Regions from separate parts of the Homo sapiens genome. Here region 1 is linked to region 2. A link means that fine-mapping ties the variant in region 2 to the expression of a gene that starts in the linked region. Tissue or cell type: tibial artery. Region 2 holds a variant in brackets; the other region holds the start of a gene. All regions are shown on one strand. Distances are between the middles of the regions.

Evidence for each region. PIP is the estimated chance that this variant, and not a neighbour inherited with it, causes the effect.
Region 1: it holds the start of HDAC1, and the variant in region 2 is fine-mapped to the expression of HDAC1 in tibial artery (GTEx, PIP 0.99). The same link has a PIP of 0.9 or more in testis and whole blood.

The regions. Positions count from the first base shown.
Region 1 is chr1:32,288,505-32,296,591 of GRCh38, reverse strand. It overlaps HDAC1 (histone deacetylase 1), which reads right to left and starts at 4,509. Exons shown (of 14, transcript NM_004964.3): 1 at 4,374-4,509. The coding sequence starts at 4,422. RefSeq lists enhancers at 3,070-3,644, 3,716-3,775 and a silencer at 4,386-4,795.
Region 2 is chr1:32,329,933-32,338,031 of GRCh38, reverse strand. It overlaps HDAC1 (histone deacetylase 1), which reads right to left. Exons shown (of 14, transcript NM_004964.3): 8 at 7,346-7,454; 9 at 7,124-7,264; 10 at 6,450-6,558; 11 at 6,226-6,356; 12 at 5,790-5,942; 13 at 5,283-5,331; 14 at 4,406-5,015. The coding sequence ends at 4,988. MARCKSL1 (MARCKS like 1) reads left to right here and starts at 1,799. Exons shown (of 2, transcript NM_023009.7): 1 at 1,799-2,085; 2 at 2,935-4,193. The coding sequence starts at 1,999. The coding sequence ends at 3,435. LOC124903949 (a long non-coding RNA gene) reads right to left here and starts at 2,655. Exons shown (of 2, transcript XR_007065661.1): 1 at 2,528-2,655. RefSeq lists silencers at 426-554, 1,488-2,017, 2,038-2,187, 2,318-2,397, 2,538-2,977 and 1 more and enhancers at 1,218-1,307, 1,577-2,146. The variant A/G (reference allele first, on the strand shown) is at 4,430.

The sequences.
Region 1 (8,087 bases), 41 kb after region 2:
GCCTGGGCAACATGGCGAAATCCTGTCTCTAAACAAAAGACAACCGTTTGTCTTCTAAACAAAAAATACAAAAAGGGTGCACACCTGTGGTTCCAGCTACTTGGAAGGCTGAGGTGGGAGGACTGCTTGAGCCTGGGAGGCAGAGGTGGTAGTGAGCCAGGATCATGCCACTGCACTCCAGCCTGAGTGACAGAGTGAGGCCCTGTCTCCAAAAAAAGGGTTCAACCTGATGTCTCCTCTTCAGTTAGCCATCCATGTACTGCAATCTACCACAATCTAGCTTCTGCCCCAGTTGCCGCCAACACTTGCCCAATCCCTCCCTTCTTTAGCTTCTGCAACCCAGTACTTTCTGGTTCACCTACCTCTCCGGCCCCTCACTCTCTATCATTATACATTTAATCAACAAATATTTATTGAGAACCTACCATGAGCTAGGCATTGTTTTTGGTGCTGGGGATACAGAGGTAGACAAGGCACGGCCCCTTTCCCTAAAGAGCCTCCTCTCTACAAGAAATATGACCAAGTAAATGGGCAATTCCTCTACACAGTGACAAATACTATCACGGGGGAGTACACAGCATGAGGGGCACTAAACTTTTCCTCAATCCACTTCCTTAGAATTCCACCCTGGAATTCTATATAACTTATTGGGTGACTGCATCCTTTATGACTAAATTTACTACAATTAAAATTGCTAGCAGCCAGGAATGGTGGGTCATGCCTATAATCCCAACACTTTGGGAGGCTGAGCCCAGGACTTCAAGGCCAGCCTGGACAACATGGCAAGACAACATCTCTACAACAAACAAACAAACAAACAAACAAATAAAATAACTATCCATATGCTGATTGTTATGGTCTGAATGTGTCCCCCAAAATTCATGTGTTGGAAACATATTCCCCAATGCCAACAGTGTTTGGAAGTGGAGCCTTTTGGGAGGTGTTTAGGTCTCAAGGGCTCTACCATCCTCACTAATACATTAATGGCCATATAAAAAAACAGAGTTTATCCTTTTTTGCCTTTCCACCTTCTGTCATATGAAAACACTGAATTCAAAGCACCATATTGGAAGTAGAGACCAGACCCTCACCAGACACCAAATGCTGGCACCCTGATCTTGGACTTTCTAGCCTTGGACTTCTCAGCCTCCAGAACTATGAGAAATACATTTATGTTCTTTTTTTTTTTTTGACACAAGGTCTCACTCTGTCCCCCAGGCTGGAGTGCACTGGTGCGATCATGGCTCACTGCAGAGTCGACCTCCCAGGATCAAGTGATCCTCCCACTTCAGCCTCTCTACAGGCACATGCCATCATGCCCAGCTAATTTTTTTACTTTTTGTAGAGACAGAGTCTCCCTAAGTTGCCCAGGCTGGTCTCAAACTCCTGGGCTCAAGAGAACCATCCGCCCCAGCCTACCAAAGTACTGGGATTATAGGCGTGAGCCACCACATTCAGCAATTTCTGTTCTTTATAAACAGTGTTCTGTTATAGCAGACTAAGATACTGATGACTACCAAAAAATTTCTATCTTCTAAACTGCCTACTGGATGCCTCTACTTGGATGTCCCCTAAACATCTTAACAGTTATCAATAGTTATTTCTAAACAAACAAACAACAACAACAAAAAAAACAGTGGCTTAGGCCTGTAATCCCAGCACTTTGGGAGGCCAAGGTGGCAGGATTGCTTGAGGCCAGGCACAGGAGTTCAAGACAAGCCCAGGCAACATATTGAGACCCCATCTCTAGAAGTTTAAAAAAAAAAAAAAAAAGTTGGGGCCGGGTGCGGTGGCTCACACCTGTAATCCCAGCACTTTGGGAGGCCGAGGCGGGCGGATCATGAGGTCAGGAGATCCAGACCATCCTGGCTAACACGGTGAAACCCTGTCTCTACTAAAAATACAAAAAATCAGCCCAGTGTGGTGGCGGGCGCCTGTAGTCCCAGCTACTGGAGAGGCTGAGGCAGGAGAATGGCATGGACCCGGGAGGTGGAGCTTGCAGCAGTGAGCCGAGATTGCGCCACTGCACTCCAGCCTGGGCGACAGAGCGAGACTCCATCTCAAAAAAAAAAAAAAAAAAAAGTTATCAACTGACATGGCATTCTCCAAACCTCCAAACACTCACCATCAAATTGCCCACATCAGAGGCCAGGAAGTGTGGCTCATGCCTATAATCCCAGCACTTTGGGAGGCTGAGGCAGATGGAGCACTGGAGGTCAGTTTGAGACCAGCCTGGCCAACATCGTGAAACCCCATCTCTAATAAAAATACAAAAACTAGCCAGGCATGGTGGCGCACGCCTGTAATCCCAGCTACTCAGGAGGCTGAGGCAGGAGAATCCCTTGAATCTGGGAGGTGGAGGTTGCAGTTGCAGTGAGCCGAGATCAAGCCACTGCACTCCAGCCTGGGTGACAGAGCTAGACATCATCTCAAAAAATAAAAAATACTGCCCACACCAGGAACTTGGGATCCATGCCTTCTTCCTTACCCCTACAATCTGAATTTTTTTGTTTTTTTTTTTTTTGAGACGAAGTCTCGCTCTGTTGCCCAGGACGGAGTGCAGTGGTGAGATCTCAGCCCACTGCAACCTCTGCCTCCCAGGTTCAAACAACTCTCGCACCTCAGCCTCCTGAGTAGCTGGGACTACAGGCATGTGCCACCACACCTCGCTAATTTTTTTTTTTTTTTTTGAGATGGAGTCTCACCCTGTTGCCCAGGCTGGAGTGCAGCGGTGCAATCTTGGCTCACTGCAACCTCTGCCTCCTGGGTTCAAGCGACTCTCCTGCCTCAGCCTCCTGAGTAGCTGGGATTACAGGTGCGCACCACCACACCCGGGTAATTTTTGTATTTTTAGTAGAGACAGGGTTTCACCATGTTGGTCAGGCTGGTCTTGAACTCCTGACCTCATGATCCGCCCGCCTCAGCCTCCCAAAGTGCCGGGATTACAGGCGTGAGCCACCGTGCCCAGCCTAAATTTTGTATTTTTAGTAGAGATGGGGTTTCACCGTGTTGGCCAGGCTGGTCCTGAACTCCTGGCCCCGAGTGATCTGCCTGCCTCAGCCTCCCAAAGTACTGGGATTAGAGAGGTGTGAGCCACTGCACCTGGCCCCCATTACTTTAATTTCTAAGGTATAAACCTGATGATGTCAATAACCTGCATAAAACTTGAATCACTCACAAGTGCCCTCAATAAAGTCCAACTTCCTTGGGACAGCATGCCCAGCCCTTCATGGTCCGGTCCCTATTTACATCTTTTTTTTTTTTTTTTTTTAAGACAGAGCCTCGCTCTGTTGTCCAAGCTGGAGTGCAGTGGCACGATCTCAGCTCACTGCAACCTCTGCCTCCCGGGTTCTAAGGGATTCTCCTGCCTTAGGCTCCAGAGTAGCTGGGATTACAGGCGCACACCACCATGCGCGGCTAATTTTGTATTTTTAGTAGAGACGGGGTTTCACCATGTTGGCCAGGCTGGTCTCGAACTCCTGACCTCAGGTGATCCACCAGCCTCGGCCTCCCAAAGTGCTGGGATTACAGGCGTGAGCCACCACGCCCGGCCAAATGCCTGTTTTTCAAAGGTCCTGTCCTCTCTCTTGCCTCTGAAACTTGCTGTTATCTTTGCCTTCCCTGTGCCTGGCTAAGAACTCCTGTTCTTCAGGTCCTAACTAAGATGTCCCCTCCTTCGCTGACTCCTCAGGTGGAGTTCGGTGCCTCTTCTCTGTGCTCCCCTAACACTCTGAGCTCTGACACGGAGAGAACTTCGGTCACTGGGAAGGGTGACCCGATCAACCCCACGGCCCCAGCCCCTCAACACTTCCTCGAACACAGTAACCTGCTTGAGAGATTAAGTGAGAAGTCTGTTTTAACAGGTTGCATCCTTCTCCTTGCAACCCCTGGCGCCCCACGTCGCAGTAGCAACCGCAGGCCCCGCTCAGAGGCTGGGGGAGGGGAGGCGGGCAACCAGTCGTGCAGGACTCTTCCCCCAGAAAAGATGAGGAAGGGACGGGGCAGGGAAGAGCTTTGGGTTCTCGGCAAGAAAATGTATCCTTGCAGCCGTCTCCATCAGATTCAGCCTCCCCGCTCCGACGCACCCTCCCCTCTAGGAGTCCCACTCAAACTCTCCACATCAGACTTCCTCAGAATCTTCCCATCAAGATTACCTCACGCTTCCCCCACGCGATCCCCTCTTGGTCTCAGCCTCGATCTCCCTTCCTCGCAGCCTCCTCCCTCAGCCTCGACTTCCCCCTCGCAGCCTCCTCTCCGAGCCTCTCCCCAGCGCCTCAGCCTCCCGCAGCCTCCCATCGGCGCTCCAGCCTCAGCCTCCAGGTTCCCGGTCCGGCCCGGCCTGGCCCCGCCCCCGCCGCGAGGACGGTGCTCACCGTCGTAGTAGTAACAGACTTTCCTCCGGGTGCCCTGCGTCTGCGCCATCTTGCTCGCCTCCCGTCCCTACCGTCAGTCGGTCCGTCCGCCCTCCCGCCCGCGGCTCCGCTCAGCGTCCGACCCAGGGGGGAGGGGGCGGGCCTCCGGCCCGCCCCGCCCGTCCCCTCCTGGGCTCACCTATAGCCGCGCAGCCCGGGCACCGCTCCAGCCAATCAGCTTGCGCAGACACGGGCCCGGAACTCGGCAGGGGGCAAGGGCAGCCCGGAGAGGCCGCCGAGGGCCCCCTGGGCCTGTACCAAGGTCTGCGACAGATGGGTGGGGAGCCGCCCGGGGACCGTACCATCAGTCCCGGGGGAGGAAAGCAGCTCTGTAAACTTAACAGTCCCACTTCGTCGTGAAAAGCGTGCTTGGAGATCGGAGGCCAACTTTCTGATTTTACGGAGAATAAACCGAGGCCTACAGGGGAAAAGTGACTTGCACAAGGTCACTCAGCCAATAAAAGGGCTGAACCTGGGTTAGAAAGCGAGTTTGTGGCCGCAAAGGAGGGCTACAGAAAAATAATTAAAAAGAAAAGCAACACGCGGGTTTGGAGAGGAAGAAACCGACAAGAAAGGGAAAGAAAGCTAATGTTTGTCGAGGGGCTGCTGTGTGCCAAGTACTGTGCGACACTTTACCAATGTTATTTCAGTTTTTCCTCAAAACAGCTCTCGGCCAAGGGCTTTTTACCTCCATTTTACAGGACAGGATAAAGAAGTTCAGACTTCTGTGAATTATTCAAAGTTACACAAAGTAATTAAATTCAATTTTTTAATTGTACAGGGTTTTTAAAATGCTTTCTTTGCACCAGAGGCACTGTAACAAAGTGACAGAACCCAGCCTTTCAGACTCCAAAATCTACCTCCCTGATGCAGTCACCCAGGATGACTAAGTAGGCGTCTCTTTAGACAGGAGGAAATGGGATTATCCTATGATAGGAGGGCAGGTTTCCTTTCTTTTCTTTCCCTGTTTTTTTTTTTTTTTTTTTTTTTGAGACAAGAGTTTCGCTCTAGTTGCCCAGGCTGGAGTGCAATGGTGTGATCTCGGCTCACCACAATCTCTGCCTCTGTGTTCAAGCGGTTCTCCTGCCTCAGCCTCCCGAGTAGCTGGGATTACAAGCATGTGCCACCATGCCCGGCTAATTTTGTATTTTTGGTAGAGACTGGGTTTCTCCGTGTTGGTCCAGGTGGTCTCGAACTCCTGACCTCAGGATCCGCCCACCTCGGCCTCCCAATATGCTGAGATTACGGGCGTGAGCCACAGCGCCCGGCCTAGGAGGGCAGGTTTCTCAGCCTGGTAGCTAATGACATTTTGGGCCAGGTAATGCTTTTTTGTAGGAAGCTATTCTGTGCATTAACAGCTTCTGTGAAGCTGTTCTGTGCCTGGGCAACTAGAGTGAAACTCTTGTCTCAAAAAAAAAAAAAATTAAGCAGCATCCTTAGCCTCTACCCACTAGATGCCAGTAGCACCTTCCCCCCAGGCTGTGACAACCAAAATTGTCTCTAGACATTGCCAAGTACTGTGCAATAGCTTTACCATTGGGTTGGGGGGAAGATTAGTGGGGTGTAAGGGAGTGTAAAATTGCCCCCAACTCTACCATTAAGAACCACTCCACCAGATCATCAATTATCAACTGATCATCACTGAAAGCTGAAAGACCTAAAAGTGCAATGCTGGGCTATTAAAATAACTACAATAATGTCAATATTTAATGAGTGCTTCCTGTGTGCCAAACATTGCTCTAAGTTAGCCGCCAACTTGTGGTCCTACAGTCAACAAGAGGCTGGGCACAGTGGCTCACGCCTGTAATCCCAGCACTTTGGGAGGCCAAGATGGGTGGATCACTTGAGCTCAGGAGTTCGAGACCAGCCTGGGCAACATGGCAAAACCCCATCTCTACAAAAAATAGAAAAATTACCCAGGTGTGGGGGCGCGCTCCTGTAGTTCCAGCTACTCAGGAGGCTGAGGTGGGATGATGGCTTGAGCCCAGGAGACAGATGTTGCAGTGAGCCAAGATCATGTCACCACACTCCAGCCTGGGCAATAGAGCCAGGCCTTGTCTCAAACAAAAGAAAACAACAAGATACATCTTTATGCCTCTTTAAAGAGTGTTTGGGACTTGTGTTTCTCACTCAGAAACTGCATTTGAGTCATTAATTATAAGGTAACAGAAAATCTAAGACTGGGTGGCTTATAATAGAAACAGCAAAGGGCCAGGGAACAAATTCTACTCCCAGTTCTCTGTTGCTAATTCTCAGCTAGCCCTGGGTGGGTTTACTTAACCATTCTGGGCCTCCATTTCCCTTGTTATAAAATGGGGAGGAGGCCGGGCACAGTGACTCATGCCTGTAATCCTAACAATTTGGAAGGCTGAGGTGGGCAAATCACCTGAGGTCAGGAGTTCGAGACCAGCCTGCCCAGCACGGTGAAACCCCGTCTCTATTAAAAATGCAAAAATTAGCTGGGCGTGGTGGTGTGTGCCTGTAGGTCCCAGCTACTTAGGAGGCTGAGGCAGGAGATTCGCTTGAAACCGGGAGGTGGAGGTTGCAGTGAGCCGAGATCAGGCCACTGCATTACAGTCTGGATGACAGAGTGAGACTCTGTCTCAAATAAATAAGAAATAAAATAAAATAACAAAAATGGGGAGGATAGGAATACAAAGTTCACCCACGCTATGGCTGTACACAGTATCCCAAAGAGAAGGAGTGTGGGGATCAGATGAGATCATGAGGTGTGGCAGCAGGTCAGTCAGGTGATAGATTTACATTATTATGACTCAGATGCTCTTTGTTTGCATATATATATGTATATATATATATATAATTTTTTTTTTTTTTGAGATGAAGTCTCACTCTGTCGCCCAGGCTGGAGTGTAGTGGTGCGATCTTGGCTCACTGCAAGCTCCACCTCTCGAGTTCACGCCATTCTCCTGTCTCAGCCTCCCGAGTAGCTGGGACTACAGGCACCTGCCACCAGGCCCGGCTAATTTTTTTATATTTTTAGTAGAGACAGGGTTTCACCATGTTAGCCAGGATGGTCTCGATCTCCTGACCTCGTGATCCACCCACCTCAGCCTCCCAAAAAGTGCTGGGATTACAGGCGTGAGCCACCACACCCGGCCCTTTTTTTGTATATTTTAAAAATTACAAAAAATAAATAAAATAAAAATTAAAAAAATAAAAATTAAAAAAATTAAAAATAAAAATTAGAGGCCGGGCACTGTGGCTCACTCCTGTAATCCCAGCAGTTTGGGAGACCGAGGCGGGCAGATCACCCAAGGTCAGGAGTTTGAGACCAGCCTGGCCAACATGGCGAAACCCCACGTCTACTAAAAATATAAAAATTAGCTAGGCATGGTGGCAGGCGCCTGTAATCCCAGCTACTAGGGAGGCTAAGGCAGAAGAATGGCTTGAACCTGGGAGGCAGAGGTTGCAATGAGCTGAGATCGCGCCATTCAGCCTTCCGAGTAGCTGGGATTGTAGGCACCTGCCACCACTCCCGGCTAATTTTTTGTATTTTTAGTAGAGACGGGGTTTCACTATGTTGGCCAGGCTGATCTTGAACTCCTGACCTTGTGATCCGCCTGCCCCGGCCTCCTAAACTGCTGGGATTACAGGTGTGAGCCACGGTGCCTGGCCAACATTTCCCTATCTTTCATCAAACACTCTGCCATCCTC
Region 2 (8,099 bases):
CATTGTGGGTTCCCTATTGTGGCTGAGACAGAGAGCAGGTCATGACATCCTTCCCTTAGTGGCAAGCTGTGGAGAAGTCACGGTACTTTCAGTGAGCTGCAGTGGGGGCACAGTGCCTCTCCCCGTCCCAAAGCTAGCCCTTGCCTCCCACTCTGACCAGGCAGCCCCAGATCTCAACAGAAAATTCTGCCAGGGGATTCCTTACAGCCCTTGGCCCATGTTATCAAACCTCTCCAAGCCTTTTCTCACCCTCAGCTACTGGTAGCTGCTGTGTGCCCTTGGGCATGTCACTTTCTCTTCCTGAACCTCAGGGTCCCAGTCTGTGAAATGGGGCGGGGGTGGGGGGCAAGTGAAGCTGAGATAGCTGAGGGTATTCTGTAGTCTCAGGGTGGGGGTGGGGATGGAGGATACAGGAGTGAGTGCAGAATGCAGAAGCCACCTCAGCCCTCCCCGCCCCTCTGTGGTCAGATCTCTGGGGAGTTCCCAATTTCTCAGGCCCTGGGGTGTCTCCACACTTCACAGCCTCAGGCCTCCCAGGAGGCTTCACCGTAGGAGGGAGGGGAGGGACTTGCTGAGCTGGCTGGGACACAGCCTTGCATTTGCAACACTTTGCTTCCTTCCAGCCCCCATCCCTTTCCTCCTGGGGGCTGAGGGCTGGCAGCCGGACACAGACATCCGGGGCCGGCCAGGATTCTGGGGTTCCCACCAGCCTATCCAGGCCAGCAGAAGGAGAGGTGGCAGAGGACCAAAGCTAGGGAGTCTCCAGCCCGGAGCACCTCCGGGCTCCCTTGCTCTCAGGCAGGGTGGGAAGCTGGGCTGGGCAGCTTTGAGGGCTGTCCTCAAGGGGCTGTCCCTTGAAGGGACCCTTGGTAGCATCCTATCCCTCCCCTTCAGAAACTGGGGTGTTTTGAGGTTTGTTGAGTCCCCAGCTGGGGTTCCTCTGCCGGCCTGGGGCACCCTGATGTAGGGGAGCAGAGTTGTGTGTGGAGGTAAAGAGGAAGGACCAGAGCCAAGTCAGACAGGTTGTCAATGCCTCTGAGCCTTGGCCTTTCAATGGGGATGGAGATGCCCTTCAAGGTCACAAAGTCCCCCACGTGGGACTTTGCAGTGGGTCCAGGCTGAGGGCAGGAGGGGCTCAAGGCGAATCTGTCTGTCCCCACTCAGAATGACTGGCCACCAAGGGACTGAAAGGAGGAATGAGGGAAAGGCCTCACTAGTCCGACCAGAGTGACCCCGAGGCAAGGCAGAGCCCTCCGCTCCCCGGCTGGCCATGGCAGGCAGGCAGGGACGTGGGTGGGACCTCTGACCGCTCTCCAGGCCGGAGCGGGTGCCGAGCCCAGCGCAGGGGCCCTGCAGCTTCTATGACCACATTTCTAGAGTATAATTCAGGACCAGCCATCTGACGAGCCTGGTCGTGTGAGCCCTTCGAAGGGTTCAAGCGGGAGACTGCCAGCGGCTGCAGGACCAAGGCGTTGGGGGCCGCTCCAGGCTGCGGGGGCGCCCACCGGAGAGGTGGAGCGGAGAGGATGGAATGACTGCCCGTCTCCTTCCTCCAGGCCCCCCGCCCCGCCCCGCCCAGCTCGCGGGAGGACTGGCCTCGCTCCTGCCCACACCGGACTCTACCTGCCCCTGGGATTCGGGTGGGGTGGGGGGTACCCGACCGCCAGCGTCGCCTGCTGCGCAAGTGGGGCCTGCGAGCCAACCCCGCCTCCGCCCCTCGATTGGGCGCGCATTTAAATGTCCGGCCCCGCCCCGAGCTCCGGGCGCTTATATATAGGCAGCTCGGCGGGCGGCGGGCGGCATTCTGGCGCGGAGCGGAGCGGCGGCGGGCGCAGCTAGCGGGTCGGCCGCGGAGCGGAGGTGCAGCTCGGCTTCCCCCGGCACCCCTCCCCCTCGGGCGCCAGCCCCACCCCTCCGCCGGCCGGGCCGACCCCGCCGTACTATCCCCTGCGGCGCGAGCCCGGGGCGGCTCCAAGCGCCCCCCAGCAGACCCCCATCATGGGCAGCCAGAGCTCCAAGGCTCCCCGGGGCGACGTGACCGCCGAGGAGGCAGCAGGCGCTTCCCCCGCGAAGGCCAACGGCCAGGTGGGTACGCTTGGCCCGGCCGGCCCCAGCCCCTCCTCTCGCACCTCGCCCCTTCTAGGGCCCGGGGCCGGGGCCGGGGCCGCGCGCTTTGTCCGGCCCGGGACACGCGGCGCCCCCTCCCCCGCCCGGTCCCTTTGTTCTCGGCGCCGCAGCCCCCGCGGGCGAAGCGAGGGGAGGGGCGGGGAGGGGGCGCCGGCCGGGCCCTGCCGCCTTCTTTGTTCGCGGCCCCGGTCCCCGGCGCTGCCCCCCGGCCGCCCCGAGTGCCGCGCGGGGAACAAAGGCGCTGCTGGGCCACGCCAAGGGGGCGCCCAGGGGCCGCGGAGCTGGGGCCCGGCGGGGAGCGCACTCCACCCGCCGACCCGACCTCGGTGGCCCACGGTCTTTTTTTTTTTAAGGGGGAGCCGAGATGCGGGAGAGCCTGGGGTGGGTGGGGGCCACTTACACAAAGCGGGAGGCTGGGAAAATAGGCCGTCCAGGTGCAGAGAGACAGCGCCCCGGGGCGGCTTCCCGCCCAATGTCGCCTAGAGCGGCTCGCCCGCCTGCCCGGGATCCGCACAGCAGATCCGGAGCGGTTCCGCGCGGAATAGAGAGCGCGCCCCGGGGGACGGGGGTGGGGGCCACGGGACCCCAGCGCCTCCTGCCGGTCGCGCCCTCTGCGCGCTCGCTCCCCGCGCGCCCGTGAGGGGCGAGAGGGAGGTGTTTGACGGGATCCTGGGTGTGGGTGAGGCTGAAGCCAGACTTTCGGGTTGCAGTAGAATCGAATCGAGGACCCCTTCCTCTAGAAGGGATCAGAAGCGGGCTGGGGGAGGGGGAGCCCCTGCCCTCATTGCTATTCCCTCTGCCCTGCAGGAGAATGGCCACGTGAAAAGCAATGGAGACTTATCCCCCAAGGGTGAAGGGGAGTCGCCCCCTGTGAACGGAACAGATGAGGCAGCCGGGGCCACTGGCGATGCCATCGAGCCAGCACCCCCTAGCCAGGGTGCTGAGGCCAAGGGGGAGGTCCCCCCCAAGGAGACCCCCAAGAAGAAGAAGAAATTCTCTTTCAAGAAGCCTTTCAAATTGAGCGGCCTGTCCTTCAAGAGAAATCGGAAGGAGGGTGGGGGTGATTCTTCTGCCTCCTCACCCACAGAGGAAGAGCAGGAGCAGGGGGAGATCGGTGCCTGCAGCGACGAGGGCACTGCTCAGGAAGGGAAGGCCGCAGCCACCCCTGAGAGCCAGGAACCCCAGGCCAAGGGGGCAGAGGCTAGTGCAGCCTCAGAAGAAGAGGCAGGGCCCCAGGCTACAGAGCCATCCACTCCCTCGGGGCCGGAGAGTGGCCCTACACCAGCCAGCGCTGAGCAGAATGAGTAGCTAGGTAGGGGCAGGTGGGTGATCTCTAAGCTGCAAAAACTGTGCTGTCCTTGTGAGGTCACTGCCTGGACCTGGTGCCCTGGCTGCCTTCCTGTGCCCAGAAAGGAAGGGGCTATTGCCTCCTCCCAGCCACGTTCCCTTTCCTCCTCTCCCTCCTGTGGATTCTCCCATCAGCCATCTGGTTCTCCTCTTAAGGCCAGTTGAAGATGGTCCCTTACAGCTTCCCAAGTTAGGTTAGTGATGTGAAATGCTCCTGTCCCTGGCCCTACCTCCTTCCCTGTCCCCACCCCTGCATAAGGCAGTTGTTGGTTTTCTTCCCCAATTCTTTTCCAAGTAGGTTTTGTTTACCCTACTCCCCAAATCCCTGAGCCAGAAGTGGGGTGCTTATACTCCCAAACCTTGAGTGTCCAGCCTTCCCCTGTTGTTTTTAGTCTCTTGTGCTGTGCCTAGTGGCACCTGGGCTGGGGAGGACACTGCCCCGTCTAGGTTTTTATAAATGTCTTACTCAAGTTCAAACCTCCAGCCTGTGAATCAACTGTGTCTCTTTTTTGACTTGGTAAGCAAGTATTAGGCTTTGGGGTGGGGGGAGGTCTGTAATGTGAAACAACTTCTTGTCTTTTTTTCTCCCACTGTTGTAAATAACTTTTAATGGCCAAACCCCAGATTTGTACTTTTTTTTTTTTTCTAACTGCTAAAACCATTCTCTTCCACCTGGTTTTACTGTAACATTTGGAAAAGGAATAAATGTCGTCCCTTTAGTGGTGCTTTAATGAGTGGTCTTCTGGGGGTAGGGTGAGAAGATTGGTGGAAAGTAGTTTACCTCAAACCTCAAGGGAGGAGTTAAGGCAGGCAGGTAAGTTTATGGGGTTTTCTTGTTCAGGGGGTTGCCCCAATACTCATGGACACCAGAACGGCAGGGAAGTAGAGTTGAAACCAACCCAGGGACACATAGGAAACAAGCTCAGGAGGATATAGAAATGTACCATTTTATTAC[A/G]AAGAGGCTCACAAAAATGAAAATAGTATCTCAAAAAGGAAACTAGACTAGCAACCTCCACCTGCAGAATTAGGAGAAGACAGACAGAGGGCAGGCAGTGTTTCTTGGCTCACTTGAGGCCAGTGGGAAGGTACGAAAACAGAACCAATCTAAAAATGGCTGATGTTACTTTAGGAGCCTGAAAAAAACAGGAGATCCTTGAAGACCCAGCCACCCCTTCTAGAATGTTCAATAAGGGCACCTTTCCAAAGCTACTAAGCAGGCACTTGGCATTTCAGGAGTTTGTCTTATGGTTGCATAAAAGTATCCCTTTCACCCAGACCTGGCACCCTTTATGGTTCAAAGTTAAGAACGGGAAGAATGGGTGGCAAGGTGGCTCCTGGAAGAGCTCACCCAGCACAGCTGCCCTGAGCTCGGGGCCTTGGTTTCTGTCCCTGGGGATATTTATATTTAATAAATTTTTATATAAATACACAGAGAAATAGAAAATATAAAATCTGAGGGGTTGGGGAAGAAACGTGAGGGACTCAGCAGGAAGCCAGAGCTGGAGAGGTCCATTCAGGCCAACTTGACCTCCTCCTTGACCCTGTGGAGAGAGCAGAGACTGGCATGAGATGACCCAGCCCAGAGCCTCAGGGCAAAAGTGCAGACAGTGACTTCCACAGGATCCTAGGTGACTACTGGGGGCTGGGGCTCCTAGCTCTGCCTAGAACTGCAGAGCTGGACAGACTGGTCCCTGAAAGAGGCCTTTGTAAGCTGGACCAGCTGTCCCTGTGCCTTTCCTCAGAGTGGTGGGACAAAGGGGCTGGTGCTCCAATGCCAGGGAGATGGCCACAGGCAGCTCCTTCCTCACCCTTTGGCTTCTGGCTTCTCCTCCTTGGTTTTCTCCTCTTCGGTGACTTCTAGAACACAAGAGTACAGGGATGGCCAAGGGCAGCACCTCTGGGAAGACCCATGAGGTCTTCATTTACCCTGAGACCCCTTCCCCAACACTACAGCTCACTGGACATAAAGAGAGAAAAGCCCATCCCTGGTCCTCCCAGTGAGCCCTGTTGAGAACAGGTTGGACTGGTTTCCCAGCCTGCTACAGCCAGAACCTGGTGGGCGGAGGCAGCCCCCTGGGAAACTGGGGTGCAGTGCTGGGAAAAGGGCTGGGGTGGTATGTGAGAGCCGTGCTCAGGCAGTAGAGGTTCATTGTTTTGTGGGCTCTGCCACTTCTGGGAGCCACTGAAAGGCTCAAGGAACTGAGGAAGAGCCCCACAGGAGCTGGCAGGGCCTGAGTCACTCCCTCCTCCCACTGCCCTACATAGATTCATCCTCTCAGGCTCGAGACCCAAGTCCCAGCTGAACCCAAACCCACCTTTCTTCTCCTCTGGGTCTTTCTCTTTTTCATCCTCTGTTTTGACTCTCTTGGCTTTTTTGAAGTTGGAAGAGTTCTTGCGGCCCCCCTCTCCCTCCTCTTCAGAATCGGAGAACTCTTCCTCACAGGCAATTCGTTTGTCAGAGGAGCAGACTGGGAGGGAGTGGGAAGCATGGGTGAGAGGGCAGGCGGGTGCTGATTTAGCTCAGCATCTATGCCCAGTGCTTCCCTGCGTGTCCTCCAAGAGACACCAAGGGAAAGGGAACCAGAAGAGGGAGGAACTCGGGCTCCCTAACCTGTTCCTACAGGCACTGGAACTCGAAAACAGATTTCTCTACAGGTGGGGAGCTTGGAGGGAGTGTGCAGCCAGGAATGGTGGTGGAAGTGTGAGCTGCCTATTGAATGGAAGGCATAGGGCTCTAGGTCTGGGTCTCACTCGAGATGCGCTTGTCAGGGTCGTCTTCGTCCTCATCGCCACTCTCCTCAGGGATGGCGTCCTCAGGAATCGCCTGCATTTGGACCCCAGGTGCGTGCGGCAGCATTCTAAGGTTCTCAAACAGTCGCTGTCTGTGGCCAATGGGAGAGAGTAGCAGGGCTCTGGTCAGGGACAAACCAAAGTCAGGAATGTTCAACCAAGGGGTGGCTGGAGGATATACTCACTTGATCTTCTCCAGGTACTCATTCGTGTTCTGGTTAGTCATATTGGAAGGACTGATGTGGAGCTTGAAATCTGGTCCAAAGTATTCAAAGTAGTCATTGTATGGAAGCTCTGATTGGGGCAGGAGAGAAGACCGTCAAGAGACCTGGCCACCGCACCCTAACCATTTGCACGTAAGCACCCTAAAGCATTTGTAGGTTTCTCTGGGCCTATTTATCCAAACAGAGGAGAATGCCTCCAAGACACTGTGAGACACGGGTACCTATGGGATTTCCATCTTTTTAACATCACTCTCCTATGTCTGTACCAGTGGTGTATATGTCGCTAGGAGAAGGCCCATGTCCCTGGTTTAGGACACTTGAGGCCATGCTCATTATGAGCGCTCCCTTCACTCGCTACTCCAGTTACTCTACAGAGTAGAAATTCCAAAGCTGTAAATTACCAATGAGAACTTTGTCCAGACCAAAAGCAGGAGGGAGAGGGGAGAGAGCTAAAAAGGACTAGGGAAAAAGTGATGGTTATGGTCTGCTGATCACAAGAGGACAGGCAGGAGACTCAGTGACTAGTATCAGAAGAGGAGCGGTCATATGACCAACGGGGAAGGGGTTATAAACTTAAGGACAGATGAGCTCCAGCTCCCACCCAGCCCAGCCGAACCTGGCCCTGCAGCTATTACCATTAGGGATCTCCGTATCCAGGGCCACAGCTGTCTCATATGTCCAGCACCGGGCAACGTTACGAATGGTGTAACCACCGCCTCCCAGCATCAGCATAGGCAGGTTAAAGCTCTTGACAAATTCCACACACTTGGCGTGTCCTTTGGTGGGAGAAGGGGTGCTGAGTTACAGGAGCACCAAGCAGGACCCCGCCCACCCATCCTTGTGCTACCTGGTCTCACCTTTGATAGTTAGATTGAAGCAACCTAACCGATCCCCAGATAGGGAGTCTGAGCCACACTGTAAGACCACCGCACTAGGCTGGAACATCTCCATTACTTTGGACATGACCTAAAATGATACATCCTGGTCACCACCAACCTCAAGAAAGCAATACGAGGTTTGGAGTGGAAAGGCTGGGTGCAACACTTTCCCACCCACTCCTACCTTTCCACTCTCCCTCATGCTATGTGGGAGAGAAAAGGGAGTGCTAGGCTGGAGCCCTTGCTTGCCCACTTGGGATTTCAATTTTCCAATTTAAAAAGTTCTCTAAGACCCTTCTAACACTCTAGTAACACTGAACCTAGAATGGCCTCCCTCTCAACTCCCTAAGTCTCTTCTGTTGCCCAAGCTCTAGTGCCACTTCCTCCAGGAAGCCTTCCTGACCTTTAGCTGCATCTACTCTACTCATTCGGTCTTACAGACTTGAAGCCTTACATTATGAGCAAGCACTTTTAGTTTATCTTATTCTCACAAGCAGAGTCTAACGTTACTGAGACCGAGACCACAACTCCCACTTCTGTAGCCCTTATTAAATACTAGGCACATAGTGGGCAGTCAGTGTTTGCTGAATGACTACCTGACCTTATTAGGTTAAGCAGTTTCTTACTGTTTATAAGTGAAGATTTAACTCCTTGGCATGGCATTCAAGGCTCCCTTTGAAATACTGAGCCCAGCATACACTTCCCACCGCCTCCTTCAGCACTCCTCCCATAC